Homo sapiens: one gene and its partners. The protein of the gene in region 7 purifies or fractionates together with the protein of the main gene of each other region. This does not show direct contact. Each region holds a gene or a part of one and is shown on either strand. Other genes may lie near its edges.

What was found.
Region 1: the proteins of SLC51B (region 7) and PRR15 purify together in Homo sapiens (affinity purification with mass spectrometry; one large-scale study listed by BioGRID and IntAct). This does not show direct contact.
Region 2: the proteins of SLC51B (region 7) and ALDH18A1 purify together in Homo sapiens (affinity purification with mass spectrometry; one large-scale study listed by BioGRID and IntAct). This does not show direct contact.
Region 3: the proteins of SLC51B (region 7) and TAOK1 purify together in Homo sapiens (affinity purification with mass spectrometry; one large-scale study listed by BioGRID and IntAct). This does not show direct contact.
Region 4: the proteins of SLC51B (region 7) and METAP1D purify together in Homo sapiens (affinity purification with mass spectrometry; one large-scale study listed by BioGRID and IntAct). This does not show direct contact.
Region 5: the proteins of SLC51B (region 7) and TMTC4 purify together in Homo sapiens (affinity purification with mass spectrometry; one large-scale study listed by BioGRID and IntAct). This does not show direct contact.
Region 6: the proteins of SLC51B (region 7) and RAB3D purify together in Homo sapiens (affinity purification with mass spectrometry; one large-scale study listed by BioGRID and IntAct). This does not show direct contact.

Annotation. Positions count from the first base shown.
Region 1 is NC_000007.14:29,562,494-29,566,634, reverse strand, and holds the start of PRR15 (proline-rich protein 15), read right to left. Parts: upstream 2,801-4,141; 5' UTR 2,258-2,800; exon of another isoform or gene 1,973-2,257; intron 1,103-1,972; exon of another isoform or gene 882-1,102; intron 451-881; 5' UTR 306-450; coding exon 1-305.
Region 2 is NC_000010.11:95,650,212-95,653,711, reverse strand, and holds part of ALDH18A1 (delta-1-pyrroline-5-carboxylate synthase), read left to right. Parts: intron 1-306; 5' UTR 307-334; coding exon 335-422; intron 423-3,500. UniProt on the Homo sapiens protein: Bifunctional enzyme that converts glutamate to glutamate 5-semialdehyde, an intermediate in the biosynthesis of proline, ornithine and arginine.
Region 3 is NC_000017.11:29,393,363-29,396,862, forward strand, and holds part of TAOK1 (serine/threonine-protein kinase TAO1), read left to right. Parts: intron 1-3,500. UniProt on the Homo sapiens protein: Serine/threonine-protein kinase involved in various processes such as p38/MAPK14 stress-activated MAPK cascade, DNA damage response and regulation of cytoskeleton stability. Phosphorylates MAP2K3, MAP2K6 and MARK2.
Region 4 is NC_000002.12:172,002,953-172,006,452, reverse strand, and holds part of METAP1D (methionine aminopeptidase 1D, mitochondrial isoform 1 precursor), read right to left. Parts: intron 1-3,500. UniProt on the Homo sapiens protein: Removes the N-terminal methionine from nascent proteins. The N-terminal methionine is often cleaved when the second residue in the primary sequence is small and uncharged (Met-Ala-, Cys, Gly, Pro, Ser, Thr, or Val).
Region 5 is NC_000013.11:100,671,996-100,676,139, forward strand, and holds the start of TMTC4 (protein O-mannosyl-transferase TMTC4), read right to left. Parts: upstream 2,801-4,144; 5' UTR 2,749-2,800; intron 1-2,748. UniProt on the Homo sapiens protein: Transfers mannosyl residues to the hydroxyl group of serine or threonine residues.
Region 6 is NC_000019.10:11,322,658-11,326,157, forward strand, and holds part of RAB3D (ras-related protein Rab-3D), read right to left. Parts: intron 2,929-3,500; coding exon 2,741-2,928; 3' UTR 1-2,740. UniProt on the Homo sapiens protein: The small GTPases Rab are key regulators of intracellular membrane trafficking, from the formation of transport vesicles to their fusion with membranes.
Region 7 is NC_000015.10:65,051,142-65,053,897, reverse strand, and holds the end of SLC51B (organic solute transporter subunit beta), read right to left. Parts: exon of another isoform or gene 2,384-2,756; coding exon 2,293-2,383; exon of another isoform or gene 1,909-2,292; coding exon of another isoform or gene 1,833-1,908; intron 933-1,832; coding exon 734-932; 3' UTR 501-733; downstream 1-500.

The DNA of each region.
Region 1 (4,141 bases), on a different chromosome or scaffold from region 7:
TTCCTCTTCTCCTTAAAGCGGCCGGAGCGCGAGATCTTCAAATTGCGGCGGCTGCTGCCGGATTTGTCCCCGTATAACTTGTCTGGTTTGGGGGGCTCGCCGGCGCCCCCGAGGAGATTGGGGTGCTGGTTCTCCCGGGAGCTGCTGGTCCAGTCCGGGCTGGGCGGCGCAGGTGGCGTGGGCTCCCCGGGAGCGGGCTGGGCGGGAGGCGGCACCCCCACTGCGGCTTCCTTGCTTTTCTTTCTGCTGTTGGTGAGCGATTTCCACCAGGGGCCGGAGCTGCCAGCATCGCCGCTGTCGGCCATGGCCGGAGGGCCTAGGGGCTCCCGGCACCCAGATGGAAGGGCCAAAGCGGCCCCTTTCTCCACGTGGTCTCCGGCCGTTCACTCCACCCCTTCCCCGGCTTGCCACACGTGGGCTGCGGGGTGGATGCTGAGGCAGCGGCCTGTGCTGGGGAAGAAAACAAAACTTGGTTACTGGGTTGGTTGAAGTCACGTGCCCCCCCCAGTCCCCTTTCCTCCCTTATGCTGTCTGGCACCGGATCGGCCAGGGTCGGAGCGACCCAATCCCGTAGCTACGTAGCCCACATTAGCATTAGACGCCACTGCGCCCCATAGGGTGCTGGCGGAAGTGTCTTCCAGGGCACCATCACCTGGTCTCTAGGCTGAGCCTTGAACTCTTTGGCTTCAACCTTTGCCTTTCCTTCAGGGGAAGTGCAGTGCAGTGGTCAGCGTGCCCGGGGGACCCAAGGGACGTTCCCACCCCTCTGAATCAACCCGTCTCTAGAGGGAAAATGACCGCCCTGTCCACACTGCTTGACTGTAGATGGACGCCAAAAGGTGACCCATCCGACCCAGGGCGGCCTCCCTTTGGATAAGCACCTGGGAGGAGGGCGCTGGGAACCAAGTGCATCCTCTCTACAGGTGAACGGTATTAATTAGTCCATGGTCAAACAGTCACGAAATTTCCCTCCAAGATTTGCCCCCATCGACTTTCGTCCCAGGAGCCTTTTCGATGAGATACTTAGGAGAATTTATATCCCAGTAGGAGAGAAGGACAAGCTTATGATATTTGTTTTGGTTCTTTTAAATTCTACTTTTGACCACTTCTGCCTTGTGACTTTCAAAGAAGCATGTCTAGACTTAACTTCCCTTGAAAACCGCCATCCTAATTCTTCCTTTTACTCCCCAGAGCCCAATCTTGCGTCTGTTTGAAGTCACCCCCGGCTGACGGTTGAGATGAAGCCAAGTATCAAATGGCCTCTTCCCTTAGTTTTGTATTAAAATATGCACCGAGTCTGTACGACGCAACTCAACTCTGGAGAATTTCAGTTACAAAGTAAAGGCTTCTCTTCTTTTCCTTGTGCAATTCCCTCCTCCCAAGGAGAAAGAACGCAACAAGGAACTCCGAAACAATGTGCTTCTTCCCCAAGCTTCTAAGACCCCCCCTCTGCAGAGCGAAAGGCCGCTTCTGAGCACTTAGGTGCGGGTACAGCAAGCGAGACTCCCAGCCCACTTTCTGTGCGGGGTCTCTTGGGCGCTGCCACCAGCAACGGCAGGATTCGCCTGCGCCGCGGCTCACTTCCAGGTTTCCGCTCGGCTCCTTCCCAGCCCACGCGCCGGGCGCTCCTGGGATTGGCGATCGCGCTGGAGAGGGAAACTTCGGCGGTGTTTGTTGTAGGAGGTTCTCCTCCCGGAACCGCCAGGGAGAGGAAGTCTGATCGCCTACGGGAGGCGGCGGGGCGGCCTCGGCTGCGCCCCGAAACCGCAACACCGGCTCCTCCCCAGGATGCCCTGAGGACACACTCGGGCAGCGACTTGAAAACAATACAAGAAAAAACGGCCAAAAGTTCTTTCGGTACAAAAGGCACCCACGCCCTCAGGCACAATTAGCAACTGCGTCTGCAAACATCCCATTCCCTCCTACTTTGCAGATCGGAAAAGCAACCCGTACCCCCAAGTCATTTACTAACAGTGGTGGTAAGGTGTCCTGATGCTGCTTCCTCTCCTCTAACCTACATTTTCTTCTTCACAATCATCAACTTTGTGAGCACGGAAGGGCTTTGTACGAATTGCGCAAGGAAAAGATGGCAAATTACTCAAAAGTACAGAAAACGGAGTCCTGGAGCGTCCGTGGTTTTCAGCCTCTCTTAGGGCTCCGGGAGGCGGGTACCTGGGAGGTACCAGGCAGCACCCCAGGGTGACCCCCGGGGCCAGGCTCTGTCTCGGCGGACGCCGAACCACCCCCAGTCGCTCACCTGCTCGGGCTTAACAGGACCCGGAGGCCTCGCGCGGTGAACGCGGCCGAGAGCACGAAGGGGGCGCGCTCGGGTCAACCTGGAAGCCGGGGCTCGAGTCCCTGGGCGCGGACTTGGAGAGATCAGGCTTCTGGAAAGTGTACAGGTCGGAATTCCCGCAGCCCAGCTAAATCAAGTGCTGCTGCTGGTCTCCTCTGGCACCTCCAATTGCTGCGCGCTGCGGCGGAAGCCCGGGGCTCGCAGCGCAGTCTGTTCTGGTCGGAGGGGGCGGCGGCGAGGGGCCGCCAGACTCGCTGCCCGGGTGGAAGGTCCAGGGCGGCTTTCCGGGCTAGTAGTGTTTCATTCGCCGGCGCGTCCCTCTTCCCTGCTAGCACCGCCCGGGAGCCGGCTGAGAGATGGGACCCTGGCTGTTCACTCCGGCGCATCGAACTTGCCTACGCGTCCGTAGGAACGCAAAAAAGACATCTGCCCACCTGCTGGTTATTTGCCAAGTGATTCGGGAAACCAGAACCCTGGGGCAGCTGGGGGAGAAAAGAAAATAACCCAGGAGGCGGTCACCGCTGCCACAGGTGCAGGTAGGAACTTCGCGTTCCCACCCTCCAGGGGAGGAGATTGGATCAGGCGCCAGCCTTGAGGTGTCTGATTGGAGAAAAGCTGTGCAGTGCCGCTCCCCCGACCGACTCCTTGAGAAGAAACGGCGGAGACCTGAGACCCGGAGGCTGAGGCTGTAGGTGGGCTCCGCTGGGTAAAAGTTGCCGCAGCAGCTGTCCCTTGGCCCCATCGCGATTTATTTTTCCCCCTTGCTTTCCGGGTCCCGGGATCCCAAGTTTGTAACTAACGGGAGCGAATCCACACCCGAGCAAAATGTTTGCGAGTTTCAGGCGCCCTTAGTTGAAAGGCTGTAATTAACAAGTCCGCTGTTTGCCAGCCAGGCGCCGTTGCAGGCGCTTTCTGTGGATTGTCATTTATTTCTCACAGCAACCCTAGGAGGTAGGTATTGTTATTATTATTATTCTCACTCGACAGGCGAGGAAACCCTAGCACGGGAAAATGGTTGCTCAGGTTTGCCTGTCTGGTACGTGGCAGAGCAGGGTTGGAACCCAGGGGGCCTGACTCTAGCTTCTACGGTCTTAACCACCACAACCTGCCAGTCTGAGACTCTTAACACGACTCAGTGAGGATGTGAATTTCCTTCTTTCAGGCCTGGAAGTCCATGGACAGCCACCCAACGAGGGCAGTGTAAATCCAGCCCTGAGCCACTGCAGGAAGTGAACCGGGGATTGCACTCCTGGTCACATAAGAGTACTTTTTTTTTTTTTTTTTTTTTGAGACGGAGTCTCGCTCAGTCGCCGAGGCTGGACTGCAGTGGCGCGATCTCGGCTCACGGCAAGCTCCGCCTCCCGGGTTCACGCCATTCTCCTGCCTCAGCCTCCCGAGTAGCTGGGACTACAGGCGCCCGCCACTGCGCCCGGCTAATTTTTTGTATTTTCAGTAGAGACGGGGTTCCCCGTGTTAGCCAGGATAGTCTCGATCTCCTGACCTCGTGATACGCCCGTCTCGGCCTCCCTCCCAAAGTGCTGGGATTACAGGCGTGAGCCACAGCGCCCGGCCAAGAGTACTTTTTATTCATTTGACATAAAGATATTGGCACAGGGCATTTTCACTAATGAAGGCAGAGGTGCAGCTTGCTTCATCTTCCAGGATGCTCTTGTTTCAAAAAACGATTTTGATGTTCCTTGAGCTCATATGCAAGCATAACTCCCCTGAAGGACTGGGTGTGGAGCAACTGAGCATCTCTGTTGTGAAAACTGTTTGCAGTATAAAAGCAGTGAAAGACAGCCGGGCAAGATGGCTCAAGCCTGTAACCCTAGCGCTTTGGAGGCC
Region 2 (3,500 bases), on a different chromosome or scaffold from region 7:
ACCTGAAAGATTTTTTTTAAATTTGGAAGATACCAAAAAGAGCAGGTGTTTTTTGTGTCTCAAAATATTCCTAACTCTGCATTATTATTTGCTTACATAAAAACTAAGATGGTTGAGGCCTAGAAAGGAGCCACTTACTTTTTCTCTCTTTTCTATAATATAGAGGAGGTGGGAGTTTCCCTAATACAGAGGAGTTTGGAGCAGGAGAGTCAGATTTTTACTCCGAGGGTAAGGGGAAGTAGAGGGAAATAAAATGAATTGTCCAGTATTTTTCATTACTCACTTTTTAAAAAATGTATTCTGCAGATACTTTGGTTAGTGACCACATCGCAGCATGTTGAGTCAAGTTTACCGCTGTGGGTTCCAGCCCTTCAACCAACATCTTCTGCCCTGGGTCAAGTGTACAACCGTCTTCAGATCTCGTATGTACCATAGAAAACTTATGAGTATGTGGGACGTTTGATAGTCAAAGTATGTTTCAACAAGGTTTTCAAAGAGAAAAAAGATGTTTGTTTGTTTGTTTGGAGACAGGGTCTCATTTTGTCACACAGGCTGGAGTGCAGTGGCACAAACATAGCTCCATGCAGTCCAGACCTCTTGGACTCAAGCAATCCTCCTGCCTCAGCCCACCAAGTACTTGGGACTACAGGCACACACCACCGCGCTGACTCTAACTTTTTTATTTTTTGTCGAGATGCGATTTTGCCATGTTGCCCAGGCTGGTCTTGAACTCTTGAGATCAAGCAATCTGCCTGCCTTGGCCTCCCAAAGTGCTGGGATTACAGGCGTGAGCCATCGTGCCCAGCCAAGAAAAAAGGTTTAAAAGAGAGAGAGAGAAAAAAAAGATGTAATTTGGCAGAATTGGACAAAATTCTGCCAAATAGCAAGGAGGCAAAGAGGTAGTCTCCTGGTGAAATGTTCTCAGTGTTTGTGTCAATAAAGTTGACCCCCAAATAAATTTTTACATGCTTTTTTTTTTTCTTGAGTCTCACTCTGTCTCCCAGGTTGGAGTGCAGTGGTGTAATCTCAGCTCACTGCAACCTCTGCTTCCCAGGTTCAAGCGATTCTCCTGCCTCAGCCTCCCAGTTAGCTGGGATTACAGGTGTGCATCACCATACCCAGCTAATTTTGTATTTTTAGTAGAAATAGGGTTTCGCCATGTTGGCCAGGCTGGTCTCGAACTCCTGACCTCAGGTGATCTGCCCGCCTCGGCCTCCCTCCCAAAGTGTTGGGATTACAGGCGTTAGCCACTGTGCCCGGCCCCATGCTATTTTTGTTCATTACTCTTTTTTTGTAATTAAGTTTTAGATTTTGAGCTAATTATAAATTCACTTGCAATTTTAAGAAATAGTACAAAAAGGTCCCTTATACCCTTTACCCAATTTCACCCAGTATCTGAACCAAGGTATTGACGTTGATACGATCAAGATACAGAACATTTCAATCACCACAGGATTTTTTATTTCTCTTTAACAGCCACTGTCCTCTTCCCTATTACTAACCCCTGGCCAACATTAATCTGGTCTACATTTTTATAATTTTGTCCTTATAAAAATGTTATATAAATGGAATTATCCAGTATGTAACCTTTTGGAATTCTGTTTTCTTCAGCATAATTCTCTGGAGATTCATTCAAGTTGCTGTGTGTATCAGTTAGTTCCTTTTTATTACTGAGAAGTATGTAATGCTATGAGTGTATCACAGTTAGTGTAACCATTCACCCATTAAAGGACATCTGGGTTGTTCTCATTTTTTGGCTGTTATGAATAAGGCTGGTATGAACATTGATGTACAGGATTTTGTGTGAACATAGTTTTCATTTCTGTGGGATAAATGCCTAAGAGTGTAGTTGCTGGGTCAGATTGTAGCTACATGTTTAGTTTTTTACATAGTTTGAATGTATGTCCCTACCAAATCTCATATTGAATTGTAATCCCCAGTGTTGGAGGTGGGGCCTGTGGGAGGTGTTTGAGTCATGGGGGTGAATCCCTCATGCCTTGGTGCTGTCCTTGAGATAGTGAGTGACTTCTCACAAGATCTGGTTAAGTGTGTGGCACCACCCCCTCACTCTCTCTTCTTGTTCCCTCTCTCGCCATTGGAGATGCCTGCTTCCCCTTTGCCTTCTGCCATGATTATAAGCTTCCTGAGGCCTCACCAGAAGCTGAGCAGATGCCAGCACCATGCTTCCTGTACAGCCCACAGAACTATGAGCCAGTTAAACCTCTTTTCTTTATAAATTACCTAGCCTCAGGTATTTCTTTACAGCAATGCAAGAATGGCCTAACACAGTTTTATAAGAAACTGTCAAACTGTCTTTGCAGAGTGACAGTACCATTTTACATTCCTACTAGCACTGTATGAGTGATGCACTTTCTCTGCATCTTTACCGTCATTTGATGTGGTCACTCTTTTTTATTTTAGCCATTTTGATAGGTATGTAGTGATAATCACATTGTGGCTTTAATGTGCCTTTCCCTAATAGCTAATGATATTGAACATCTTTTCATGTGTTTATATCCTCTTCAGTGAAATGTTAGTTCATGTCTTTAGCTCATTCTTTTTGTTTTTTTTTGTTTTTTGAGATGGAGTCTTGCCCTGTCACCCAGGCTGGAGTGTAGTGGCGCAATCTCAGCTCACTGCAACCTCTGCCTCCCGGGTTCAAGCGATTCTCCTGCCTCAGTTCCTGAGTAGCTGGGATTACAGGTGCCCACCACCATGCCCAGCCAGTTTTTGTATTTTTAGTAGAAACAGGGTTTTACCATGTTGGCCAGGCTGGTGTCAAACTCCTGACCTCAAGTGATCCCCCCACCTCAGCCTCCCAAAGTCCTGGGATTATAGGCATGAGCCTCCACACCTGGCCTTCAGCTCAGTTTGAATTGGAAAGTTGTTTTTTTTTTAAACTATTGAATTTTGAGAATTCTCTATATCTTCCTGTCTTAGTCCATTTTTATTGCTATAAAGGAATATCTGAGGCTGGGTAATGTATAAAGAAAAGAGGTTTATTTGTCATGGTTCTGCAGGCTGCACAAAAAGCATGGCACCAAAAACTGCATTGGGTGAATGCCTCAGGCTGCTTCTGCTCTTGGAAGAGGATGAAGGGGAGCTGTTGTGTGCAAAATCAGATGGCCAGAGAGGAAGCAAGAGAGAGAAAAGAAAGGGCCAGGCTCTTTTTAACAACCATGTCTCATGGGAACTAAGAGTGAGGACTCATGCATTCCCTCTGAGACTGGCACCAGGCTGTTCATCAGGGATCTGCCCCCGTAATTCAAACACTTCCTACCAGGCCCCACCTCCAACACTGGGGATCAGATTTCAACCTGAGACTTGGAAGGGCCAAACCATATCCAAACCATAGCACTTCCAGGTATTAGTCCTTTGTTGGATAGGTGGTTTGCAAATGTTTTCTCCCAGTCTCATAGCTTGTCATTTTATTCTCTTAAGAGGGTCTTTCATATAGGAAAAGTTTTTCTTTTGATGACGTCAAATTTATCAGCTTTTGT
Region 3 (3,500 bases), on a different chromosome or scaffold from region 7:
TAACTAAGGACAACTGAAAAAAAAACAACTCTCTTTTTTCATAGCTGGTAGGAATGTTGCCTAAAAGTGGAAAAGTATGTTCATGATCAATTAGATAAATACATTATTAAGGAAAAATTGCCTGAGGGTTATTTCAGATGACCTCTGATGCCACTGTCAGAAAGAAAATGCTGAGAGCTGTTAGTCTGAGTTGATTCTAGATTAGTATGGCACTTCTTATGTTTCTAAATAGTTCATCTACAAAATGGCAGTGTACATCACTTCCTGTTCTTTCACAACTGGCTCTTTCACTGGATTCTCTTTTAATGACTTAATTTTTGGCATTCTGATATCTGATTTGTTAATTTGGTTATAATTCTCATGTTTTATAGGTGGAAGAATTTCTGAGAATCAGCTGGATTTAAAGGCTTTTAATAGTTTAAGATTATCTTGACAGTAACAAAACATTGCTTCCAAACTAAAGGATAGTATTGCAAACAAATTTAAACTCTGAGAGGTTTTAAAGAAGTACAGCAATGTACAGAATCAGAAGTATGAGGGCACTGAATAGAAAATAATTATCGTATTTTTTATAATGTCGATTTTGGGAGAAGTGAGGATATGGCAAGTAATTGAATGGGTGTTGATATAAAATAAACTTTCTGTATAACAAGGTGTATACATGATATTTGGGCCCATGTTACGATGCCATTTTAACAGTAAGAAAGCAACTCTTTAGTTACAGGATACTAGAAAGACTGGATGCTCATAACTAACCATGAGTATGATTTATTTTAATAATTTGCCAGTTTTTTTTTTTTTTTTTTTTTTTTTTTTTTTTTGAGACGGAGTCTTGCTCTGTCGCCCAGGCTGGAGTGCAGTGGCACGATCTCGGCTCACTGCAAGTTCCACCTCCTGGGTTTACGCCAGTCTCCTGCCTCAGCCTCCTGAGTAGCTGGGACTACAGGCGCCTGCCACCAAGCCCAGCTAATTTTTTGTATTTTTAGTAGAGACGGGGTTTCACTGTGTTAGCCAGGATGGTCTCGATCTCCTGACCTTGTGATCTGCCCGCCTCAGCCTCCCAGAGTGCTGGGATTACAGGCTTGAGCCACCGTGCCCGGCAAATTTGCCAGTTCTTAATAGACATGAATATTTAGTAAATCCAGAAGATATCTAGGGGTCAGTTGTTGGCATTGAAATTAGAGTTGAGATCAATCTGTCTTTCGTGTCTTTCACCTGGAAATAAAGTCTGTGTTTTGCATTTGGCTTATTTGTATATTAAAATCACTTAATTTTTCATTTGTATCTCTGTTTTGTTTTCACTAGTCTCTGTTACTTATAACAATTAATTGCACTCATACTAATTTAATCTTTTAGAAATGAGGAGCATTTTTGGTACATATTAGTTGAGGGTTGCTGTTTGGATGAGGATCATATGTGAACGAATCCCTTCAAAAAAGTGTTATTTCTGGGCTGGGCAAAGTGGCTCAGGCCTGTAATGCCAGCGCTTTGGGAGGCTGAGGTGGGAGGATTGCTTGAGGCCAGGAGTTCAAGAGCAGCCTGGGCAACATAGCATGACCCTGTCTCTACAAAAACAAATTTTTTTTTTAATTAGCATGGGCTAGGCATGGTGGTTTATGCCTATAATCCCAGCATGCTGGGGGCTGAGGCTGGAGGATCACTTGAGCCTAGGAGTTTGAGGCCAGCCTGGGCAACATAGTGAGACCCTGTCTCCAAAAGATAAAAAATGAAAATATTAGTGGGGCGTGATGGTGCGTGCTTGTTCTAACTACCTGGCAGGCTGAGGTGGGAGGATTGCTTGAGCCCAGAAGATGGAGGCTGCAGTGAGTTGTGATCATGCCACCGCACTCTAGCCTGGGTGACAGAGTGAGACTGTCTAAAAACAAAAGCCTGTGTGGTGGCTCAAGCCTGTAATTCCAGCACTTTGGGAGGCCAAGGTGGGCGGATCACCTGAGGTCAAGAGTTCGAAACCAGCCTGGCCAACAAAGAGAGACCCTGTCTCTACAAAAATAAAACAAATTAGCTAGGCATGGTGGTGGGTGCCTGTAACCCCAGCTACTGGGGAGGCTGAGGCAGGAGAATCACTTGAACCCAGGAGGTGGAGGTTACAGTGAGTTGAGATGGCGCCACTGCCTGACAGCCTGGGCGGCAGAACAAGACTCCATCTCAAAACAAAACGAAACAAATAAAAAAGTTTTATTTCTCTAGTAAAGTTTCGCATAAAATTGAGATGTTCATTAAGCAGAGTACCAACATATGCTCACCTGCCTTTAGGTATGTGTACTTTTTTTTTTTTTTTTTTTTTTGAATTTGAGACAGGGTTTTTGCTGTGTCGCCCAGGTTGGAATGCAATAGCGTGATCACAGCGTATTGCAGCCTCAGCCTCCCGGGTTCAAGTGCTCTTCCCACATCAACCTCCCAAGTAGCTGGCACTACAGGTACATGCCACCACGTCTGGCTAATTTTTTTTTTTTTTTTTTTTTTTTGTAGAGATGGGGTTTTGCCATGTTGCCCAGGCTGGTCTTGAACTCCTCAGCTCCAGCTATCTACCTGCCTTGGCCTCCCAAAGTGCTGAGATTACAGACATGAGCCACTGCACCCGGCCCGATTTCCGTACTTACTATTAATGGTTGGATTTTAAAAATTATTCTTCAGGTTTTCCTATTATAAAATATGAGAGGATACAACCTGTATTAGTTCATTCCATTCTTAAAGTATTTTAGTTTTTAGTAATAAAAATTGATGTTTAATTTCATTAAAGATGTCTCATACCTTCTAAAAATCTACATGAATTAAAAAGTTGTGTGGAGGGACTAGCAGCAATTATTTTCAGCTGGGACGTTTCTGTCATCATATGGTAACAGTTATTTCTGTATCAGTCTATTTGTGCCAGAAGCAGACTTTTTGTTCTAAAATACAGTCTAAGGCTATACCTTTTTGATGACAAAATTAAGTATCCTATAAAAGTTGGAAGAGTTTTTAAAATGTTAAGTACCTGGCATGTAAATAAAGTAAGTAAAAGTATAAATTATTAAGTGCCTTGCATAATAGATATACTGCAGCCTCCTAAAAATGCCAGTGACCGTTATGCTGTAGGTTGTTATTTAAATATAATGGCACTTAATTACCGTCTAATTTATCTTTAAAGCTGAGAAGGGGCTAATTTTTCCTTTTGATAAAATTATTTGATCAAATAGTTTTATGCAGGTTTAGAAGTAGATGAATTACTGTAACATTTAGAAAGACATTCAAAGTTTAGTTTCTGAGAAATATTATCAAATAATAGGATGGAACAAAACTTTCTGGTTTGCAGCTACCAATAATAAAATTGGCACTTACTATATATTAATGTTGGCTGGGCGTGGTGGCTCACGCCTGTAATCCTAGCACTTTGGGAGACCGTAGATCACTTTAGGTCAGGAGTTCAAGACCAGCCTGGCCAATGTGGAGGAAACCCGTCTCTACTAAAAATACAAAAAATTAGCTGGGCGTGGTGGCGT
Region 4 (3,500 bases), on a different chromosome or scaffold from region 7:
CCAGCACTTTGGGAGGCCAAGGCAGGCAGATCACGAGGTCAGGAGATCGAGACCAGCCTGGCTAACACGGTGAAACCCCATCTCTACTAAAAATACAAAAAATTAGCTGGGCGTGGTGGCAGGTGCCTGTAGTCCCAGCTACTTGGGAGGCTGAGGCAGGAGAATGGCATGAACCTGGGAGGCGGAGCTTGCAGTGAGCCGAGATCCCGCCACTGCACTCCAGCCTGGGTGACAGAGCGAGACTTCGTCTCAAAAAAAAAAAAAAACAAAAACTATAAATATCTGCTTGTATGTCATACTCTGTGTGTATACATGTTATATACACTTAGACACATGTATACACATATACAGAAATATTGATATTTTATTTACAAAATGTGAGTAGCTTATATTGTTTTATAACTTGCTTTTCCATAATAATGTATTTTGTGGACATCATTCCATACCAACAAATGCAGGTCAATATATTTTTTTTTAATGACTGCAAAGCATTCATCACTGAGGGTCTATATGCCCTGTAGTATACATTGAAATTTCATAATTTCAATGGGAGACAGAACTATTTGTAGTACAGAAAGCTGTTTCACATCAACCAATGAGTAGATAAATAAAATGTGTTATACATGGTAGCTTATGCCTGTAATCCCAGCACTTTGGGAGGCCGAGGTGGGTGGATCATTTGGGTCAGGAGTTTGAGATCAGCCTGGCCAACATGGTGAAATCCCGCCTCTACAAAAAAATACAAAAATTAGCCGGGCATGGTGGCGGGTGCCTGTAGTCCCAGCTATTCAGGAGGCTAAGGCAAGAGAATTGCTTGAACCCGGGAGGCGGAGGTTGCAGTGAGCCGAGACTGCACCACTGCACTCCAGCCTGGGTGACAGAGAGACTCTCAAAAAAAAAAAAAAAGATATATATATATATATATATATATAAAATACAGACACCATGGAATACTACTCAGACATAAAAAGGAACAAAATAATGTCTTTTGTAGCAACTTGGATGGAACTGGAGGCCATTATTCTAAGTGAAGTAACTCAGGAAAAGAAAACCAAATACTGTATGTTCTCACTTATAAGTGGGAGCTAAGCTATGAGGATGCAAAAACATACAGAGCAATATAATGAACTCTAGGGATGCAGGGGTGAAGGATAAAAGAAAACATACTGGGTACAATGTACACTGCTTGGGTGATGGGTGCACTAAAATCTCAGAATTCACTTCTAAAGTATTCATCCATGTAACGAAAAACTACCTGTACCCCAAAAACTATTGAAATAAAACATAAAATAAATAAATAAGAAAGAAAGAAAACTGTTTCACAGCCTGGGCAGCATGATGATAACCTGTCTTTATGAAAAAAACAAAAAATTAGCTGGGTGTGGTGGTGTGCGCCTAGCCACTCAGGAGGTTGAGGTGGGAGGACTGGTCGAGCCCAGGAAGTTGAGGCTGTAGTGACCTGTGATTGTGCCACTGCACTCCAGCCTTCGTGACAGAGACCCTGAAAAAAGAAAAAAAAAAGGAAGGAAGAAAGGAAGCAAGCTAGCTGTTTCAAATAGAGGAAAACACATACAAGTATGTATGGATTTAGGAGCACTTTAGAGCCAAGGTTTCATAAGTATTTCTTAATCTGTGTAGTAACATGCCATATTATAATAGAATTGGAATGTATTTGTTAAAAGATGTCATACGGCAAAACTCCATTTCCATTCTCTGGATGTCAACAGGAATGTAGTCTAAGTAATAGGAAGCTAAACTTAGGAATGTTAGCATTTTCCAAATCACCCATGAATTGCATCCCAAAAGTTTAATTATAAGTTGGTTTGGCGGCTGGGCGTGGTGGCTCATGCTTATAATCCCAGCACTTTGGGAGGCCGAGGCAGGTGCGTCACCAGAGGTCAGGAGTTCGAGACCAGCCTGGCCAACATGGCGAAACCCCCGTCTCTACTAAAAATACAAAAATTAGCCGGGCATGGCGGCGGATGCTTGTAATTCCCACTACTCAAGAGGCTGAGGCAGGAGAATCACTTGAATTTGGGTGGCAGAGGTTGCAGTGGGCCAAGATCACACCACTGCATTCCAGCCTGGGCAACAGAGCAAGACTCCGTCTCGATTTAAAAAAAAAAAGAAAAGTTGGTTTGGCAAAACTGAGCAGACATTTTCCTGCAGAAGCTATACAAGATAGCAAGGATCTCAGGGCAGTTGGCAAAAGTTTAAAGTACTTAACTCATGATGTATAACAGCCCCTCCCCTGCCTGGCTATTACATTTTTGAAAAACCACTAAGGTAACAAAATTCTCAGTGGAGGAGTCTAGGGCCTTACAGTCACAAGTGAACAAAAGTACTTCTAAGTTTTTTTTATATTTGTTAAAAATAAGTAAATGGCCAGGTGCGGTGGTTCATGCCTGTAATCCCAGCACTGTGGGAGGCTGAGGCAGGCGGATCACTTGAAGTCAGAAGTTCAAGAGAGACCAGCCTGGCCAACATGGCAAAACCCCGTGTCTACTTAAAAATACAAAAATTAGCCAGGCGTGGTGGTGGGCACCTGTGGTCCCAGCTACTCGGGAGGCTGAGGCAGGAGAATCACTTCAACCCGGGAGGCAGAGGTTGCAGTGAGCCAAGATCGCACCACTGCACTTCACCCTGTGCTACAGGGCGAGACTCTGTCTCAAAAAAAAAAGAAAGAAAATATGCCCTCTTACTTGCTGTATTAGTCTGTTCTCACACTGCTATGAAGAAATTCCTGAGACTGGGTAATTTATAAAGAAAAGGGGTTTAATTGACTCACAGTTCTGCATGGCTCGGGAGGCCTCAGGAAATGTATAATCATGGCAGAAGGCACCTCTTCACAGGGTGGCAGGAGAGAGAATGAGTGCAAGCAGGAGAAAATGCCAGACGCTTATAAAACTATCAGATCTCCTGAGACTCACTCATTATCACAAGAACAGAATGGGGGAAACTATCCCCATGATCCAATTACCTCTACCTGGTCCTGCCCTTGACACATGGGGATTATTACAATTCAAGCTGAGATTTCCTTGTTCCTCTTCATATTCACTGGGATCTTGCTTCGTGGCCCGAGCTAGACCTGGGATTCCAGTGAAGCGAGGGCTGGGAGTGAGACTGAGATAGGAGAGAGTTCCTGGGGCCCCAGGGTAGGGATTCTGTACTCTGAGGAAGGGATTTCCTGCCAGCACTAATACTTGGGAGTATTTTAGTCCCTTAAAGGCCCTTGTTACCTTCTCTCTTGGTTCCAAGAGGCTGATCTGTCTTTTCCTCTTTCCAATGTCACTACTCATAGTTTCTACCCAACCCTCCTTAGACCATGATGGAAGAGAACAAATCTTAACAGCCTCTCAATTCTGTATACTTTTAATGAGCTTAACTTTGAGCCAGGTACTGTGCTTATAAAGACAGAAAGATACATAAGACAAAGCTTCTGTTCAACAAGAATTAATAATCTAGTAAGGAGCAGAAATGGTGAGAGGAGCTAGGTAACT
Region 5 (4,144 bases), on a different chromosome or scaffold from region 7:
CCTTGAACTGCTTAGTCTTTCTAAGAATCAATTTCCTCACTGGCACAACACAGTACCACCACCACTTTCTTCAGAAGGTGGTGGTAAGGATTAAAGGAGAAAATGTATGCAAACAACTAGTTCTCATTATTGTTAGATTTTGGAGAAATTAGCCGCTGCTTCCCAGTCCCTGACTGCCTGTCTCGGGCGCACCCATGTTGCCAGTGTTTATTCCTGCAGATGGGCTGAGCACTAGGGCCAGCAGTAGCCCATCGGGTGACCTGGTGCGACTGAGAAAGGCGGGCCCTTCTTTTGGGCAGACCCGGGGCACATGGCTTCCTTGGTCAGGTGTCTGGCACAAACTGTACAACCATGCACAGTGACCTTGTTCCCAACTCTCCTTCCTCCAACACTAAACGACTTCTGTTCCTCAATGACCTGAGCCAGGCCTGGCACTCAGTTAAAAGAAGCCCTGTCTGAGCAAGGTGGCAGAGACGGGGGACCACCCTCTCTACATCCCTTCCCCCCTTTTTTTGAACAGGGTTTCACTCTGCCACCCAGGCTGGAGTATAGTGGTATGATCATAGCTCACCACAGCTTCACCTTACTGGGCTCAAGGGACCCTTCCACCTCAGCCTCCCAAGTAGCTGGGACTATAGGCATATGCCACCATGCCTGGCTATTTTAAATATTTTTTTGTAGAGACAGGGTCTCACTATGTTGCCCAGGCTGGAATCAAACTCCTGGCTTCAAGCGATCCTCCTGCCTCAGCCTTCCAAAGCATGGGGATTACAGGTGTGAACCACCGTGCCCGGCCTCCACCATTTTTTACAGTCAGGACATGAAATAGGAAAGGATGCTCTGTTTTCTTCCAGATGGGCCCTAGGTTGAACTTTCTGGTCCCTCTTCTCCACATGATGTCCTGCCTGGGCTCCCTGGCTCCTCTGCCATAGCTGGATCGTTAGTTCACCTTATGAAGCAACAAAAAGAGAGACCCACTGTGGCCTCTGCTACAGGCCAAGCAGAGGGCACAACCCAGGAGGAATGAAGTCAGTGTTCTGCTCGCTACCTGACTCCTGCGACAGAATCAACTGGCCCCTCAACAGGGGCTGAATCTGGAACAAAGCAGACGTCCCTTTATCCTACAATTTCTCAAACTTCTCATATCGAGCCTCTGTTTTCAGGAGGTTAAAACAAATTAATCATCAGTGAGAAGGCCAAAAAGACCCCACACAGGGACCCCAGAAAAACAAATGTCATCCAGCTGTGAACCATGAGGGCCCAATGACAGCTGACACGGCAGCCTGGACTGCGGTAAACAGAATGGCGAGACCAAACCTAAATGTTTCCCCTTGGAAAAATTAGCAGCAGCCACCTACAGAAGAATATTCCCCTCCATGCATCCAGGGGCCTGCTGACCTCTGCCCAGCCTTTCTACCTCATCTGTAACATTCAATCACATAGCCAGCCATCCTATGCACGCTGAGAGGTGACAGCGCCTCTGGGAATCAGATTAGAGAACACAATCGTTTGTGACCCTGCATCCCTGGGCCTGGCAGTTTCCTGACTGATCAGACCCTGGGCCCCTCAAGGCAGGGGCGCGAGCCACCACCACCGCCCTCCTCCGTGCAGTGCTGAATACATGCTACTGAAGGCTAAGGTATCGTCCTGCTGTGACGGCCTTCCCATTTTATAATTCAGTAGCGCACGAGGGCCATGGCTGCCTATAGCAAGAATGTGTGTGGTTTGATATTCACAGTTCCACTGTCCCAGAAAGTTTCCAGTTTGCTAGCTTGTAGCCATTTCCCCTATCTAGGTGCACTGGCCGTGATTTTACCCCACTCCATCTGGGGCGCGCCCGGCGCAGACAGGACTGCAGAGAAAAGGGACAGGGAGGGGACCTAGTCAGTCCCTACTATAACTGTTTCTCAAGACATTCTCCCCATGCATTTATTTGCTCTCCCGGGGAAAGAGCGAAGTGTGGGATGACTCATAGTGGCTAGATCGTTCCTCTAACTCCTCCCTTCTTTTGTGTGTGGTTTAAAAAAAAGAAAAACACACACGCAGCCCATAGCCACAACATCAACAAGACCAGAAGCCCCGCAGAGTTCGCAGGAGGTGGGCAGTGGCTGCGCCACCTGCTCGGCTTCCCCAAACTCCGAGCCCACGCCGGGAAGCGGCGGCTCGGTGGCCCCGGGCGCCCGGGCCGGTGGCCCCGCGCTCGCGCCGCTCCGCTCCGCAGCCGAGCGTGGAGTAGCAGGCGCTCGCGGCGCGGCGGGGGAGCCGCCGCGGAACCCAGGGCAGGCGGCCAAGCGGCCCGGCTGTGTCCAGCCATCGCCTGCGCCGCGGCCAGCTGGCGGCCAGGCGCGGGGCCCCGCGGCCAGATGGCCGCTCCGGGGACGCGCCGCAGGCGCCGGGTGCGCCCGGGCCGAGGGAGCGCCGGCGCGGCTGTGCAGGCAGGGGCTGGGGGCGGCGACCTCTGCCCGGGCGGAGAAGCTCAGGGGCCCGAGCGCGGCGGGCGGGGCGCGCAGCCTCCACGCCGCGCCCTTTGTCCCATGTGCGGCTCACACAGGGGCCCGCGTCCCCCGTGACCCCGGCCCGGGCCGCAGCTCAGGTCCCGGAACCAACTCCTCCAGCAGCGCCGCTCTGGCCCGGGCCGCCGTGCGGGGCTCGGGACACGGCGGCAGCGGGGAACCCGCGCCCGCTCCGCGTCCAACTCCGCTCGCCCCGCGGCGCGCTCGGCCCTGCAGGGGCCGCCCCGCGCGTTACCTGCAAGGAGCCTGAGCCCCGGCCGCATCTCCCTCCCGGGTGCGGAAACTCTGGCGGCTCCAGGCACCCGCCCGGACCTGGCAGGGGGAGGGGCCGCCCGCCGCGCACCCGACCCCCCCCGCGCCGCGCCTCCCGCAGCTCCCCACGCGCGCGGGCGCCCCCCAGCACCAGTCTCGGCCCGCCCCCTCCGCCCGACCATTGGCTGCTGCTCCCGTCACTTTCAGGCCACAGCCAAGTCCCTCCTCAGCTCATTGGCGGACGCGCCGGTGACGTCAGGCCAGGGGGCGCTAGTCGGCGGCGAAGGAGGCGCAGGGACAGACGGACCCGGCGGGAGAGGAGGAAGCCGGGTTGTGGGCGCGGAGCTGAGGCGGAGGCGGGGCCGGGGCGGGAAGGGGCGGCCCCAGCTGGGTCGGGCGAGGCTGGCTGCGGGAAACCGAGTGAGCCCTCGCTTTTCCTCCGGGGTCCGCGCGCGGGACCCTATTTCTGGCCTGTCTCGCGCTTCGCCTGCGCGGTGGTCTCCACGCTGGGACTGCGGCGTCCTCGCAGAACAGCCAGAACTCCACTTCTTCCTGTCCGGGAGGAGTTGTTTAAAACATGCGTATCTCCACCTTCTGCTTCTTAGAACAGAACTGACTGAAGCCGTGTTCTTCCCGCCGAGACCATGCCGCCCCATCGACCCTGCTGCGGCCAGAGCCACCCAGGGCGGGCCCACTCACCGCAGGCTCGGGCCACTTGGTTCCAAACCTCCACTCCCATCCAGGGGCCCGGCACACCCACCACACTCCCACTCTCAGAGGTCTTTGCCGCCTGCTTCAGGAGAAAAGAGAAACTTCCACTTTCCACCGGCAAAACTGCACACCTGCTCCCTCCATCACCGAGCCCCCCCCCCCACCTTCTGTTTTTCCAGTATCGCAGAATCCGATCCGTTGCTCCCTCTGGACTGGAATCCGTATCCTCGGCATTTCATCATTCCAAGATTCTCTACTCCACGTACCCTTGCTGCCACCCTCTTCTACTTTCCATCGCTGAAGTTGGTGAAAGAGGCGCCTGCCCCCAGTTTTGTGGTCTCTCAACTCCACGTGTTCGTTTTCACACTCGGTGAAATTGCCTTTTTAATTGTCGCAAGTAGCATCCACATCACTAAAGTCAAAGGACACTCTCCTTTCTCGTGTTAACTGATCTGAGCAAAATTCCTTCTTTCTCCTTAAAACACGTCTTCCTGTGGCGGGGGTGCTCCACTTTCCTGTCTGTCCCCAGTCTTGGCGTGCTTGTCTACTCTGGGTGACCACCAAATAACAGAGTTTTCAAGGTCTCAGACCTTTCCTCTTACTCCACAATTTTTCCCTGAATGATTTAACCTGCTGTCAACATTTAAATCAATATATCCCAAATTTGC
Region 6 (3,500 bases), on a different chromosome or scaffold from region 7:
TTATTTTTAGAAGAAACAAATGTTCCCATATTATTCCCAGTTTTTGAGAGAATCCTGAGGCAGCTCTCTCGGCTGCTACTTGAAGTTGAATTCTTGAAAAATCTTATGTAAACAGAAAGCTTAGGCCAGGTCAGGAGTAAAATGCAGTCAAAGCTGTTTCTCATCACACAGGTGATTACAGGTTAGCTCTGCCCTATTCAAGACAATCTGATCCATTCCTTTTTTTGACAGCAGTTTAGAGACAATTGGCCAACAAAACCAGCCTGGCCAACAAGGTGAAACCGTCGCTACTAAAAATGCAAAACTTAGATGGGCGTGGTGGCAGGTGCCTGTAGTCCCAGCTACTTAGGAGGCTGAGACAGGAGAATCGCTTGAACCCGGGAGGTGGAGGTTGCAGTGAGCTGAGATCATGCTACTGCACTGCGGCCTGGGCGACGAGCGACTCTCTGTCTTAAAAAAAAAAAAAACAAAAAAACCTCAGCAGGCCATACTGCATCTTGAGAAGTCTTTTTGAAGCTACTTTAGTTTGACTTTAGTGTTAAAGTAGCTAAAAATTTTTGACTCCCGCCCACATATTCAGATACCCTCACTTTGTGCATAGGATTTGTCCATTACACCTCAGTCATCTAATTTGTTGGTATAAAAGATACCCTCGGCTGGGCGTGATGGCTCACGCCTGTAATCCCAGCACTTTGGGAGGCCGAAGCAAGTGGATCACTTGAAGTCAGTTTGAGACAAGCCTCACCAACATGGTGAAACCCCTTCTCTACTAAAAATACAAAATTTAGCCGGGTGTGGTGGCAGGTGCCTGTAATGCCAGCTACTCGGGAGGCTGAGGCAGGAGAATCGCTTGAACCCTGGAGGTGGAGGTTGCAGTAAGCTGAGATTGTGCCACCGCACTCCAGCCTGGGCAATAGAGCGAGACTCTGTATCAAAAAAACAAATGAAAAAAAGATACCCCACTCCAAAGTTCTAAGGGTAGCCTCTGGTATGAAGAAACCAGGGCTCCCTAGAAATAAATCTAAACTTGAACCAGGCTTTCCCCCTCACACATACCCCAGGGAAGAGGCTGAGCTCATGAAAGCTGCAGGAAGTCATTTTGGCTTCAGGGGCTGGGAGAGCAGACACAACCTCTGAAACAGAGTCAGGGACGTGGGAACATAAAACATCCACTTAGCCATCCTAACAGTGCTGGTCCTGTGAAGGGGTGTTGGTTGGTGTTTGGGAGCAAAGAAAAGGTGCTGCGCCCCTAGAGTTTGGAATCTGATGGGCAGAAAGTGCCTCTAAACCGGAGGTCAAGATGTACATCTTCAAACTGCACACGTAACCTCTGAGCAGAAGCCCCTGGAGGTGGGGACCCCAGCTTCAGAGACTCCCCGGCACTGATCACAGTCCATCCCCCCCATTCACATAAGGTCCTGCCACTCTCAGGCTGTCTACAAAGTACAAGCAGTGACAGCAAGTTACTCAATCCTACCTCCTCACCCCTTCCGCCCAACCCCCAGCATCCCTTAGAAGTGACCCCTAGTTTGAGGCTGTGGTGAGCTATGATTGCACCACTGCACTCCAGCCTGGGTGACAGAGCCAGACCATCTCAAAAAGAAAAAAAAAAAAAAAGAAGTGACTCCTCCATTAGCAAAAATTGTCACATCCCTGGGCCCTGCCGATGACAAGGATTGGGAAATGGACATTGGGTCTTGAAGGGCCCCCCTCAAGTCGGAGCCCAGGTGCTTACATCAGAAAGTCGCCGACAACTGCCTGCGGTGGCTGGGAACGTTGCTTCATTTCCTTTTCTAGCAGGATGCATGATTGGGCAAGAACTTGCTTAAAACACAACCAGCTAAACAGCTAAACAGGGCCTGGGAGGGAGGCCCCAGCCCCAGGCTCCTGGCTCTGAGGTTAATTAACTTCTGGCCGAAAGCCCAGAGCCGGAGTGCTAGGGGTTGGGCGAATCTCTGCCCAGTCTAATGTGGTCCATAGTTCCAGAATTCACTTCAGGATCAGAGATGTGGTGAACACAGCAAAAACAGTGGCAGGGTCGTGGGTGATGTGGATCTTGGGGGAAGCTTGGAAGGCACTTCTGGGGTCCCTGAAGCCGGGGGGTTGAGGGGATCTGACTCCCTGTCCCTTCTACAATGGGAAAAGGCTGCTTCAATGCTGCTTTTCGCAAGTAGAGGGTCTGCAGGGGTCAAAGGGATCACCATCCCACCTTGGAATCCAGAAAGTTCGTGGGGGCAGGCTCAGAGACCAGCCTGCAGGACCTGAGAAAGAGGCGCCGCCTTCCCTGGATGAACTCCAAGAACCCACACTGTGCGAGGAAGATGAACCATCTTCCACCAGCTTGGGAATATCAGTCCTGCCCAACCCAGAAGAGACCTGGAAAATGGTTCTAAGCTAGAAGGCACCACGGATGCCCCTCCATCAGAAAGAGTGGGACGTGTCACCCATGGCCACCCTCAACACACCCTGGAAAGCAGCAAGCTCATGCACGTCAGTGTCCCTGGGCCTCTGCCTGCCATGCAGAGCTGAGTCCCCATGGTCCGCAGCCTCCCACCGGGGCTGCCTGAGGAACCTGGCAGCCACGGCGACATTGTGAAGGAATGAGCCATGCAGGAGTCGGGGAGCAGTTGACAGGAGGGAAGGGATTGCCCTGAGCTTGGAGATAACCACTGTGGCTCACGCCTCGATCACAGTCCCTGCCGAGGCAGGAGAGGGGTGGGTGGGGGGTTGGGGGCCATCTCTAGCAGCTGCAGCTGCTGGGCTGGGGGGCTGGAGCATCCCCCACGGCCGGGCCTTTCCCGTTGCTGCCTGAGCTGGAGCTGGGTTCCAGGGACTCGTTCATCTTCTCGCAGATGACATCCACCAGGCGCTCGAAGACCTGCTTCACATTGATGTTCTCCTTGGCACTGGCTTCAAAGAACTCGAAACCTGGATGAATGTTAAGGTGGGGACACTCGTAAGACCCCTGAGGGCAGAGTCTCAGCTGTGGCATCACAGAAACCTGGCTTCTAAGCCTAGTTCTGCTCTTTATCCTGCTGTGGGACCTTGGTTGTGTGCCTTTGCCACTCCAAGCCTCAGTTTGCTCACCTGTAAAATGGGAATGATGATCCTACCAATGATAAAAATCTGTGGCAGGCCAGGCGCAGGGGCTTATGCCTGTAATCCTGGCACTAAAGGAAGCTACGGCGGGAGGATCGCTTGAGGCCAGGAGTTCAAGACCAGCCTGGGCAACATAGCAAGGCCCTATCTCTACAATAAATTTTTTTAAAAAGTAGATGGGCGGCCAGGTGAGGAGGCTCATGCCTATAATCCCAGCACTTTGGGAGGCCGAGGCGGGAGGATCATTTGAGGTCAGGAGTTCAAGACCCGCCTGACCAACATGGTGAAACCCCATCTCTACTAAAAAGACAAAAAATTAGCTGGGCATGGTGGCACGCGTCTGTAATCCCAGCTACTCGGGAGGCTGAGGCAGGAGAATTGCTTGAATCTGGGAGGCGGAG
Region 7 (2,756 bases):
TATGTTATTTGGTGGTGTCACCGCAGCTTATACCAAGACACCATGGCTCAGACATGGGATCAGGACACACCTTTGAGATCCCACTGTTAGCAAGAAAAGGCTGTCCAAGGCAGGCAGTGTGGTAGTTGTCTGATTTTGTTTACCACACGCCAGGTCCCAGGGAAGTCTTGCACAGACTCTTAGCAGACAAGCAGGGAAAAGAGAGGGTCCTGGTGGGTGGAAGGATTGGGAAGGGGATTCTGGGCCTGGAAGCCTGCTCCTTCCCCTCTCAGCCGTCTCAGGACTACTGTTGGATTGCAAACAGCATCTCTGACCCAGTCTTCGGACTCATTCTGTAAATGGAGGAGCTGAGGTCAGAGGGGGGCTGTGAACTACTCAAGACCACATGCTTGCAGTCCTACAGGCTTCCCGACCCACAGGCCAGCTACGGATTTTGCACTTTTGCTCCAGGCCACTTGTGTGTGTATGTGTGTGTGTACCACTGCCATCTGAACAAACTATGCAATACCACCTGCTCCCTTCCAGGAGCATTTTAATAAAAGATTTTTTTTAATAACAGAATTTTAGTTTGCTTGCAGTTCATTCATTGTATCTGCTAAGAAAAAAAAAAAGAAAGAAAGAAAAAGAAAAAAGCGGCTTCTTGGGAGAGACTCTAAAACCTGAGAGGTTTCAGGCCACTGAGCTGAGCCCACATCATGTGTCTGGCTTAGGATGGGGCTTCTCTGAACCCTCACTAGCTCTCAGTTTCTGGTACATCCGGAAGGAAAACTGACAGCACATCTCTCTCTTTTAACTCAAGTTCCACCTGGGCCAAGTTTGGCTTTTCTGAGAGCAAAGTTTCTCTTAGGTTGTTTAGGCTGTTGTGATCCTTGGCCTCATCCAAATGCAGGACTTCTGGAGTTTCTTTTTCTGGTGGCTGCATCTTTTCTTTTCTGGGGGGACAGGGAACAGTGTTAATGAGGGGGGCTGAGTGGTTGGGGCAGGACTGGGTCGCCCAAATGGCTTAAAGAGTCTAAGGGGAAAATTCTCTATGCAGTTTGGGAGCTACTAGAGGAGAAGCGGCAATGGTTGGATATTCCTTCAACAGAGAAATGGCTTACCCTTGAGTGTGTGTCATCTCAAGGAATCCTTACTGTCACCTGTGAGCTCAAGTATCATTGCCACCCCCGCACCTTCCAAGTGAGGAAATGTGCTTCAAGGAGACCAGGTGCAGTGGCTCACACCTGTAATCCCAGCACTTTGGGAGGCTGAGGCGGGTGGATCACTTGAGGCCAGGTGTTTGAGACCAGTCTGGCCAACATGGCAAAACCCCATCTCTACTAAAAATACAAAAATTAGCTGGGTGTGGTTGTGCCTGTAATTGCAGCTATTTGGGAGGCTGAAGCAGGAGAATCACTTGAACCTGGGAGGCAGAGGTTGCAGTGAGCCGAGATTGTGCCACTGCACTCCATCCTGGGCAATAGAGAGACTGTCTCAAAAAAAAAAAAAAAAAAAAAAAGCCAAGGATGCACATAGCTAGTGTGTGCACTTAAGCCTCCTGACTCTTGAATCCTGTGTTCTTTTCACCTAACCACACTGTCTCTGACCTTGGACTGTCATCCTACTTAGCGTAGGTCCTTGTCACCACACACCTCATCCCTCACACTACTGCAGGAAATTTCTAACTAATCTCTCTGCCTCTAGGTGTTTCCTTCTCCAAACCAGCCTAGGCACAACACCAGTCATGTTTCTAAAACCCCATCGTGTACACATCACTCCCCTCCCCCAACCACCTTCATTGGCTCCCACTGCCCACTTCCTTAATAACTCCCATGTGTCTGTCCTCTCTCCAGATTGGTTTTATTCAAGGTACCCCTAGACTTCCTGGCCATAGTGGAGGGACCCAGCGGTGGTAAGCTGTCTGCCTAGAGATTCTGACTGGGTCGTAGGGGGAACAGGTCTGCTGTACCCATGGACAGCCACTCATCTCTGAGTTGACTTTGCTGAGGTGCATGTGTGCTGATAGGGTGAGAGGGGCAAGCTCGCCTTCTGAATGGCTACACTCCTCCAGGTCATGCCTGCTTCCTGTCCAGGGCCAGGGGGTGGTAATCAGGGACTGTTGCTGTTTTTTGTTTGTTTGTTTGTTTGTTTTTAACAGCTTGGGGTTCTCGAAGGACACTGAAGGCTGAATTTTGCTGTCCCAAAGGGTGGACAGCAATGACCCCTAAGTGACCCCTCTCTAGATTTCCCTCTGGGAAGGCAGGGCCTCTACCCCACAGAGACCACCCCATCCCCCCAGGACCAGCTCCTCACCTGCTTGCCTGGATGCTTCTTCCCAGGAGGACCATGCTTATAATGACCACCACAGCTGCCAGGGCAAGGATGGAATGATTCCAGGGAGATGCTGGGGAAGGACACACAGGACAGAGCCCTGAGGAATGGCCAGGCACCTCTCAAGCCCGCTAACAGCTGGGGCCTGGGCTCAGACCCAGCTTACAGCATCAACTGTCCTTTGCGTGGAGACCCTAATCAAAGATGGGCCCCTTGCCCTGGGGCACTCCCAGTCTAACAGGTGGGAGGGTGGAAGACAGTCTCTACTCTGGAGAAGCCCTAATCTAATGGAGGAGACAGTACTGCAGTTAAATAATAGTGGGGCAACAGGGGTGAAGGGCAGAGGCCTACGGAGGGCAGGAGACAGGTGGGCCAAGATAAACTTCACAATCTTCAGTTTTGCCAGCCTGGGCTGGACCTGCGGAGCACAAGGAAAAGAAAGAAGG